2 separate regions of the Homo sapiens genome follow, and region 1 is linked to region 2. The links come from fine-mapping of genetic effects on gene expression. A gene starts in region 2. The other region holds a variant in brackets. All regions are shown on one strand. Distances are from middle to middle.

Region 1 (5,384 bases), 830 kb before region 2:
TTTTAAAGACCTGCCCCCTTACGTAGTAATTCGTCACGTATATCTTTCCTTTTTACTTAAAATGTTTGGTCATAGCTGTTAATGGTAGTGCAGTCATCTGTCATGTAACTGTTCTGTGATATATTCTTGTGTTCACTAAATTTTGCACTTTTCTAGGTTTCGTTTATTGATAACTTCCCAAGTATAGAATTTTTAGGTAAAATATTAAGCATTTATTAATGCCAGGAATATCAATGATTCTGTGCTAATACTTGGGAGAAATGAAGTGATTAGAAAGCCCTAGTTAAGTTTCTCTCAATCTAGCAAGGGACATATAATCTATACAGAAATAGATTAAAGTGTGACAGGAACTAGCGAAACACAGATGCTTTTCCTTGTGGGCTCATGGGAAGGTGACATTCTGACCACAGTAACCTCTGCTGTTTTATGAGAAAACCATCTTGAATACATAGAAACTCTGGAGATAAAGAGATTTTGTGTCGTAAGCGTTATGCCATGTAATTTTTTTTTTTTTTGAGACTAAGTCTTTCTCTGTCGTCCAGGCTGGAGTACAGTGGTGCAATCTCGGCTCACTGCAACGTCCACTGGCTGGATTCAAGCAATTCCCCTAGCCTCAACCGCCCGAATAGCTGGGATTACAGGCACCCATCACCATGCCTGGCTAATTTTTTTTCTATTTTTAGTAGAGACAGGGTTTCACCATGTTGGCCAGGCTGGTCTTGAACTCCTAACCTCAGGTGATCCGCCCACCTTGGCCTCCCAAAGTGCTGGGATTACAGACGTGAGCCACTCCACCCGGCCTTATGCCATGTAATTTTTAAATAAAGTTTTTTTGTAAATAAAGTTTATTTTTGTAAATAAACTTTTAATGTTAGATATACAGTCAGACGTCACCTAAGAACAGGGATACATTCTTCTGTTGTTAGGTAATGTTGTTGTTAGGTGATGTCATCATTGTGTGAACATCAGAGGGTGGACTTACATACACCTAGATGGGATAGCCTACTACACACCCAGGCTATATAGTATAGCCTGCAGCTCCTAGGCCACCAGCCTGTATAGAATTTTACTGTACTGAATACTGTAGATAGTTGCAACACAATGATTTTATGTATCTAAATATATCTAAATACAGAAAAGGTACAGTAAAAATATGGTATAGGCCAGGCGCAGTGGCTCACGCCTGTAATCCCAACACTTTGGGAGGCCAAGGCAGGTGGATCATGAGGTCAGGAGTTCGAGACCAGCCTGGCCAACGTGGCGAAACCCCGTCTCTACTAAAAATACAAAAATTAGCTGGGTGTGGTGGCAGGTGCCTGTAATCCCAGCTACTCGGGAGGCTGAGGCAGGAGAATCGCTTGAACCTGGGTGGCGGAGGTTGCAGTGAGCCAAGATTGTACCATTGCACTCCAGACTGGGTGACAAGAGCAAGACTCCATCTCAAAAAAAAAAAAAAAAAAAGGTATAAAAAGTAAACAATGGTACACCTGTACAGGGCATTTACCATGAATGGAGCTTGCAGGACTGAAAGTTGCTCTAGGTGAGTCAGTAAGTGAATGGTGAGTGAATGTGAAGGCTAGGACAGTACCATACCCCACTATAGACTAGAAACACTGTATACTTAGGCTACACTAAATATGTGAAAATTTTTTTCTTCAATAATAAATTAACTTTAGCTTACTGTAACTTTTTTTACTTTATGAACTTCTTGATTTTTTAAAACTTGTTGACTCTTCTTTTTTGGAAATGGGGTCTCACTCTGTCTCCCAGGCTGGAATGCAGTGGTGCGATTATGGCTCACTGCAGCCTTGACCTGCTGGGCTTAAGCCATCCTCCCGCCACAGCCTCCTGTGTAGCTGGGACTATAGGCACGCACCATCATGCCCAGCTAATTTTTGTATTGTTTGTAGAGATGGGGTTTTACCATGTTGCCTGGGCTTAGTGGTGTTTTTTATGATGGTAAAAGATAGTATATCCTCAATGCAAAAATTCAGAAAATGTGGAAAATCACAAAGTAAAGATTACCTATAGTACGACAACAACGAAAAATCTTTCCAGATCTTATATATATCCACACACGTGTGGGTTTTCTGCCAAAAGTGGTTGACAGTCACTCTTCTGTTTGATAACTCTAGGATGACAATGACTATTCCGTTTAATAATGCTCTCTGTTCACTAGAAAATTGAGGTAAAAGATTTTTCATGTTACAAATTAAGGAGAAACTTTTTTTTTTTTTTTTGAGATTTGAGATGGGGTCTCCCTTTGTCTCCCAGGCTGGAGTGCAATGGTGCAATCATAACTCACTGCAGCCTCAATGTCCTGGGCTCAAGGATTCTCCTGCTTCAGCCTCCCAAGTAGTTAGGACTATAGGTGTGGGCTACCACACCTGGCTAGTTTATATATATATATTTTAGAGACAGGGGGTCTCTCTACATTGCCCAGGCTGGTCATGAATTCCTGGTTTCGAGTGATCCTCCCACCTCGGCCTCCCAAAGTGCTGGAATTACAGGTGTGAGTCACTGCGCCCCACCCCAAAGCTATCTTTTTTTTTTTTTTTTTTTTTTTGAGATGGGGCCTCACTCTGT[T/C]GCCCAGGCTGGAGTGCAGTGGCATGATCTTGGCTCACTGCAACCTCCGCCTCCTGGGTTCAAGTGATTCTTCTGCCTCAGCCTCCTGAGTAGCTGGGACTACAGGTGCACGCCACCACACCCAGCTAATTTTTTTTGTATTTTTAGTAGAGACGGGGTTTCACCATGTTGGCCAGGATGGTCTCGATTTCCTGACTTGGTGATCCGCCTGCCTCGGCCTCCCAAAGTGCTGAGATTGCAGGCATGAGCCACCGTGCCTGGCAAAGCTATCAGTTTTATGATTATCTTGTTTTTCATTATATTAATACAATAATGGTTTGTTAAACTGTTTCCTCTTTGTACACATTTAAATCTTCATTTGAATAGAATCTAAGATGTATAATTGCTGAGTTTAAGGCATGCCTGTACATGCTCATACATTTTTCTAAATATAATCTTATGTGCAGGATGCCCTGAGATTATTTCTCATGTAATCATATGGGGTGTAACCAGTTGTCTCATTTTGCTAATCTCATAACTGGGAAATGATATTTCTTTGTTGCTCTACTGTGGGCGGCAAGCCACCCAGGCGCCGAGGCAAGAGATCGAGGACACGAGCTGTTCCAGTATAATAAAATATAAAACAAGAATAGTTATACCAGATATAGATCTTAGAGATATATGAATATCATTAATCATTAGTTTCTAGTAATTACTCTTTATCCCAATATTATAATAATCCTCGCTCTACAATCATAACCTAGGAAAAACCAGGCCATACAGAGATAGAAGCTGAGGGGACATAGTGAGGTGTGACCAGAAGAGAAGAGTGCGAGCCTTCTGTTATGCCCGGACAGGGCCAGCAGAAGGGTTCCTTGGTCTAGCGGTAACGCCAGTGTCTGGGAAGACGCCCGTTGCCGAGCGGACGGTGGTCTAGCAGTAGCGAAAAGTGTCAAGGAACAATACCTGCTACTTAGCAGACCGGGAAAGGGAGGCTCCCTTTCCCCGGGGGAGTTTAGAGAAGACTGTGCTCCTCCACCTCTTGTGGAGGGCCTGACATCAGTCAGGCTTGCCCGCAGTTATCCAGAGGCCTGACCGTCTCCCTGTGATGCTGTGCTTCAGTGGTCACGCTCCTAGTCCGCCTTCATGTTCCATCCTGTACACCTGGCTCTGCCTTCTAGATAGCAGTAGTCAATTAGTGAAAATACTAATAGTCCCTGATATGCAGAAATAATGGCGTAAGCTGTCTTTCTCTCTGTCTCCTCTCCCTCTCTGCCTCGGCTGCCAGGCAGGGAAGGGCCCCCTGTCCAGTGGACACGTGACCCACGTGACCTTACCTATCATTGGAGGCGACTCACATTCTTTACCCTGCCCCTTCTGCCTTGTATCCAATAAATAACAGCACAGCCAGACATTCGGGGCCACTACCGGTCTCCGCGCATTGGTGGTAGTGGTCCCCCGGGCCCAGCTGCCTTTTCTTTTATCTCTTTATCGTGTGTCTTTATTTCTACACTCTCTCGTCGCCGTGCACAGGGAGAGACCCACCGACCCTGTGGGGCTGGTCCCTACACTCTACCATTCAAATCCTTGATTTCAAGTAGCATCTTACCTCTCTATTGAAATTTCTTTAGTAGTTGTTGTTTTAGAATTCTTCAAATTTATTTGCATCTTCTGCAAGGAAGTCTTCAAATTTATTTGTATCCTCTTTATTAAGATAGAGCGGGGGTCCCCAAAACCTGGGCCACAGACCAGTACTGGTCCTTGGCCTGTGAGGAACCAGGCCACACAGCAGGAGGTGAGTGGCAAGCAAGTGAGCAAAGCTTTCTCTGTATTTACAACCGCTCCTTATCACTCACATTACTGCCTGAGCTCCACCTCCTGTCAGATCAGCGGCGGCATTTGATTCTCATAGGAGCGTGAACCCTATTGTGAGCTGTGCATGTGAGGGATCTAGGTTGTGGGCTCCTTATGAGAATCTAATGCCTGATGATCTGTCACTGTCTCTCATCACCCCCAGATGGGACTGTCTAGTTGCAGAAAACAAGCTCAGGGCTCCCACTGATTCTACATTATGCTGAGTTGTATAATTATTCCATTATATATTACAATGTAATAATAATACAAATAAAGTGTACAATAAATGTAATGCACTTGAATCATCCTGAAACCACCCTGTCCCTACTCTGTGGAAAAATTGTCTTCATGAAACCAGTCCCTGATGCCAAAAATGTTGGGGACCGCTGAGATGGAGGTACTCCCTGCCCATCTTTACTGAGGTATAATTGACACATAAAAATTTTATATATTTAAATATATATTTATATATTTAATCTTTTGATAGAAATGTACATTGTGAAGTCATTGCCACTATCAAGCTAATTAACATATTCATTACACGATAGAGGTTTTAATAAGATATTTTGGGAAGATTCCCTCAAATGTTCCATTTTATTTTGTGAAAAGAGAAACTGTACTAAGAACTTTAGAGACTATCAGCCTCAAAGATTTGCTAAGATGCAGAAAAGCTGTTATTCTTACAGTTATGGTTTATTCTAGTAAAAGGATACATACTAAAGTCACCAGAAAGAAAAGGTACATGGACAAAGGTTAGGAGAAACCAGGTACAAGCTTTCAGGTGGCTGCTTCCAGAGGAGCTATACAGGGACACACTTAATGCTCCTAACAATGACATGTCACAACATTGTGTGAACTATTGCCAGCCAGGGAAGCTCACTTGAGCCTTGGTTTCCAGAGTTTTTATTGGGGAGTCAGTCTTGCAGGGATTTATCACTCAATACCTGACTTTAGCTACTCAGTCT
Region 2 (5,384 bases):
AGTTTCCAAATTTCTACTCAAAAAATTATACGTACCATGCAATTTCATCAAAATTCCAAGAGATGTTTGGGTGGAACCAAGCTAATTCAACAATTGACACGAAAATACAAAGAAACACAAATAGCCAAGACACTCTTGAGGAAAAAGAAGGTAAGTGTACTTGCTCCAAATACAAAGTTACAGTGAGTAAGACAGTATGTTATTACTGCGAGGAGTGACAAATAGACCAGTGGAACAGAATCCAGAAATAGACATAGACATATATGTTCACTTGATTTTTTTACTAAAATGGCACTGCATATCAGTGCAGAAAATATGAACTTTCCAATAAATGATACTATAATAACTGGATACACACTCGGGAGAAAAATGAAATTCAATCCTACCCTATAAAAATTCCAGGTGGTGTAAAGACCTAAACATTAAAGCCTACCCTAGAAAGCTTTCGGCTTGGCCAGGTGCGGTGGCTTATGCCTGTAATCCCAGCACTTTGGAAGGCTGAGGTAGGCAGATCACCTAGTTCCAGGCCAGCCTGACCAACATGGAGAAACCCTGTCTCTACTAAAAATACAAAATTAGCCAGGTATGGTGGTGCATGCCTGTAATCCCAGCTACTTGGGAGGCTGAGGCAGGACAATCACTTGAACCCAAGAGGCGGAGGTTGTGGTGAGCCGAGATCATGCCATTGCACTCCAGCCTGGGCAATAAGAGCGAAACTTCGAGTCAAAAAAAAAAAAAAAAAAAAGAAAGAAAGAAAGCAAGCTTTTGGCTTTAAGACCAAAGAAAATCTTCATTATCTTGAGGTAGACAAAAATTTCTTAAACAAGACTAACCATAGGAAATGATTTTATTACAATGAAATCCAGAACTTCTATTTGTCAAAAGGCACCACATAGAGTGAAAAGTCAAACCAGAGCAGGTGAAAATACTTATCACACATACAACTGAAAAAAGATTAATTTACAGAAGATATATACACATATGTACAACTGCCGTAAATCAGAGAAAAACCCAATTAAAAATTGGTCAAATATTTGAACAACACCTTATAAAAGGGGACATTCAACTGCACTCCAGCCTGGGCAATAGAGACTCAGTCTCAAAAAAAAAAAACAAAAAAAACAAAAAAGGGGACATTCAAATGGCCAAGAATCAATGCTCAACTTTATTAGCAATAAAGGAAATTTAAATTAAATATAACATTAGACACCCACCAGATTGGCAAAAATTTAAGAGTTTTATGATGTCTAGCATGGATGTGGAGCTAAGAAAACTCTTGTAAACTGCTGGCATAAGTACAGTATCTTTAGAGAACAGTTTGGCAATGTTTGGTAAAACTGAAGATGTACAAACCCTACCTATTAGCACTTTTTTTTTTTTTTTTTGAGATGGAGTCTCACTCTGTCACCAGGCTGGAGGGCAGTGGCACAATCTTGGCTCACTGCAACCTCTGCCTCCCGGGTTCAAGCGATTCTCCTCAGCCTCCCAAGTAGCTGGGACTACAGGCGCGTGCCACCACGCCCAGCTAATTTTTGTGTTTTTAGTAGAGACGGGGTTTCCTCATGTTGGCCAGGATGATCTTGATCTCTTGACCTCGTGATCCGCCCGCCTTGGCCCCCCAAAGTGCTGGGATTACAGGCATGAGCCACTGCATCCAGCCACTATCAGCAATTTAATCACTAGGTATATATTCTAAAGAAATGCAAGCAAATGTGTACCAAAATATGCGCACAAAATGATCATAGTCACACTGCCTGTAGTAGCCAAAAATTACAAGACAAATGTCCATCAAGAGTAGAAGGATAAGGCCGGGCACAGCAGCTCACGCCTGTAATTCTGTCTCAAAAAAAAAAAAAAAAAAAGAAAGAAAGAAAAAAAAAAGAAAAAGAAAAATTAAAACCATCTGACAAATCAGTAAGGGAAAATCAGGTGTGGGAGGTGGGGTTTGAAGACACCACATTTTCTCAAAATGGAAACTCCAGGGATCAGGTCATCTCATAGGCAAGAATTTTCAAGAGAAGGAAAGCAACTATGTCCTGACAAAGAAAAAGGGATTTTTCTTAAACAAGAGGACAGGACAAGCTACCTTGCAGGTGCCTTGTGGATGTTCAACAGCCATTCTTTACTCCTGTTCGGAGGCCTCTATCCAAGCAGGGCAGGGCTGAGGAAGGAGAAAGCAGTCAGGAAACATCAGGTTCTTCTGAGAGGGAGTTGGTTTGACTATGTCAGAAGTTATCTTTGCTCAGCCCCTACTGCCCATCACCTACAGAGGAAGGTCAGAGAAGTCTAGGGCATCCTGCTTAATCCGGGCATCACAGACAACGGTAGGGTCAATGCCGTTCTGGGCAGAACCTGTCCCTGAGCTCACAGGGGTCTCCAATGGCTGAAGTCACAAAGACAAAGACTCCCCATACCTACATTGGCTATACGGACACATAGTCACACAAACTCACTCACACCGCAGGGACATAAACGTCACAGGCACCCCAAACCTAAACACAACACACAATCACACACTCATACACACCACGGGGGTAGACACGGACACAACCACAGAGTCCGTGGGCATCTCTCAAATTCCCAGTGACATACACCTTGGGGTCACAATGACAACAAATTCACACGCACCCTCCATCAACAATATCACCAACGCGCGCGCACACACACACACGGAAGCAGCCACAAACCTCAAAATTAAGGCATACTACACACAGTTCGGCAAATGGTAGTAAACACACACACACACACCCCAAGGGGACATACAGTCACAACCGCGGTCCAGGAACCTCACACTCGCAAACACAGTGCCCAACCCGGTCACAATTAAACTCTACTCACACCCGCACAAACATAAACAAAAAGTCCTCCTCCCCGCCCTCACAGTTCCATACACGGTCGCACAGACACACGCCCCCAGTCACAACCGTACACACTCCTCACAATCGCTCCTTAGCCTGTTCCCCACGCAGCCCACACAGGTCGGGAGTTCCTGTCGCGCCAGGCTCCGAGCCGCCTCACTTACGCCTGTTCGGATAGGGTCAGCTCCGTTCTACTAGAATCCACACAAGTCGACCCTAGCTATCTCACAAAGCCCCAAGGCCGCTTGCCCAAATCCGCGGGAAGATCCCGCCCACTCCTCAAGAGACAATCTAGTTATCGCGGGAGAGTGCCCTGGGCCTAGAGGCTTCTGGGAAGTGTAGTCCAGAAAGCGACAGGTTGCCGAAAGCTACAGCCCAGCCATCCCGATTCCCCTGGCGCGGACTCTGGCACCAACAAAACTATCTCTTTGAGGTGAGCTGCCCATCGGAGCCTTCCGGGAGTCTCACCTGACAAGGAGTCCCTAGACCAAGCTTTAGTCAGGCTCCTCTGAGCCCTTTTTGCTTGGCCAGGCCTCCTCCATAGCCTGCGAACAGCACTTCAGCAAGAATCCAGCTAAGCCAGTTTAGTAACAATCCCCCCACTCTTGATACTTAACTTCCTCTTAGTAATTTAGCATCCTTTAACTCCTTCACCCAGCCCGTTAGCTATAAATCTCCAGCTGCTGTTGTATTGGAAGTTGACTATTGCAATAGTCTTTAACCAAGTCCTTCTTGCCTGTTTAAGTCCTCTGGGGCAAGCTTTCTTTCACCCCGCCCAGCCTCAGAGGGCGGCTCCCGGGCTTCCGCCCCTCCTCGGGAGACATACTGGACCGCAGGGTCTCCTGGGAAACGTAGTCCAAGCCTCGCCGGGGATAGATGGGCCCAACTAAAGTGTGCTGCGTTCTCTGGGTCCTGAGGCGGCAGTCTGGCCGCAGTGACCAGACTAACTGTGCCCCGGAGGCTGCTTGGAATTCCACTTAACGCTGGAAGCACGCAGACGCTCTTGAGGCGGGCAGCTGCGTAGCGTGTGGAGGAGCCGGGAGAGCGCACCCCAATGTGGCACCTGAGCGTCTGGGACCGAACCAGCATGGGGAGTCGGAAGGGGACAAATCCGCGATCCCAGTCATGCATGTGAGACTGGGCAAAGGAAGGCTCGAGTGTGTGTGAGACCGCGGTGGGCCTGCTTGTGCTGGTGGGATGAGGGGTGTCTGGGTAGTTGAGTGAAAGAAACCGCGTGCGGGTCAGATTGGTGTGTGTGTGAGAGAAGTGAGGTCAAGATGTGTGCAGCTTTGGGCGTGGGGAGGTCATATTGAGTGTGTGGAGGTGGGGGGGGCAAGATCGTGTATGGATCTGTGTATGAGTGTGTGTAATCACCTGAATGTGGGTCACTGCGTGGGTAGCTGATACTATGACTGTGGAGGAATCTGAACCTCCAAGTCTCATTTTCTCTTTAAATTGTGATAACAAGGTTGTATCTTCCTGGTGCAGCAGTTTTAAAGGGGGGAAGCTCCATTACTGATATAATAAAATAGCATTTTTTATGTAAACATTTAACATTCAGACATTTCTTCTGAACTAGAGTACAAAATCAGTTATGAGTACTCCAAGTAGTTTAAAAAAGAAACCCGTCATAATAGATGCATATGGGGAAGATAAATAGTGAAAGGGGAACTTCCTTTTCACTATACTCTTGTTAAATTTTTAAAATCAATGTGAGGACTCATTTGAAAACAAATATAAAATTAAAAAACTGACAGAAAGGGGAGCTAGGAGGAAATCAATAATTTTTTAAGCTAGAAACTTTGGGAGGTGGTAGAGGTTGCCGAAATATGATGGCAGGAAGTGTATGACAACAGGAAATGCTGATGTAAAATATAATCCTGAAGCTTTTAACAATGGCAGGAAGGGCCGGGCATGGTGGTTCATGCCTGTGATCTCAGCACTTTGGAAGGCTGAGGCAGGAGGATCACTTGAGCTCAGGAGTTTGAGACCAGCCTGAACAGCATACTCTCTACAAACAAAACAAAACAAAAAAACCAAGCATGAGTGCGGTGGCTCACGCCTGTAATCCCAGCACTTTGGGAGACTGAAGTGGGTGGATCACTTGAGCCCAGGAGTTCAAGACCAGCCTGGCCAATATGGTGAAACCCCGTCTCTACTAAAAATACAAAATTAGCTGGGCGTGGTGGTGTGCACCTGTAATCCCAGCTACTTTGGAGGCTGACGCAGGAGAATGGCTTGAACCCGGCAGACAGAGGTTGCAGTGAACTGAGATCGCACCACTGCACTCCAGCCTGGATGACAGAGTGAGACTCCGTCTCAAAAAACCCCCAAAAAACAAGGGGACCTCCTCTTTCGGCTTTGGAGCCACCACCCCCCCAACCCCCATCTCTGTATGGGGGAACTTCTTCCTTCTGTCTTCTCCCTTCCTTCTTGCCTATTAAACTCTCCGCTCCTTAAAACAAAACAAAATACAACAAACAAACAAACAAAAAGACCCAAAAAACAAAAACAACAAAATTTGGA

Evidence for each region. PIP is the estimated chance that this variant, and not a neighbour inherited with it, causes the effect. A credible set is the group of variants that fine-mapping cannot tell apart.
Region 1: its variant is the best candidate, but not a certain one, in a credible set for the expression of ZNF345 in visceral fat (GTEx, PIP 0.79).

The regions. Positions count from the first base shown.
Region 1 is chr19:37,679,282-37,684,665 of GRCh38, reverse strand. It overlaps the pseudogene ZNF781. Among named protein-coding and RNA genes, the nearest start is that of ZFP30, 27 kb to the right of the region's middle. The variant T/C (reference allele first, on the strand shown) is at 2,587.
Region 2 is chr19:36,848,607-36,853,990 of GRCh38, reverse strand. It overlaps ZNF345 (zinc finger protein 345), which reads right to left and starts at 3,115. Exons shown (of 3, transcript NM_001242472.2): 1 at 3,023-3,115; 2 at 2,087-2,161. It also overlaps a transcript of ZNF790 not described here. RefSeq lists an enhancer at 3,353-3,592.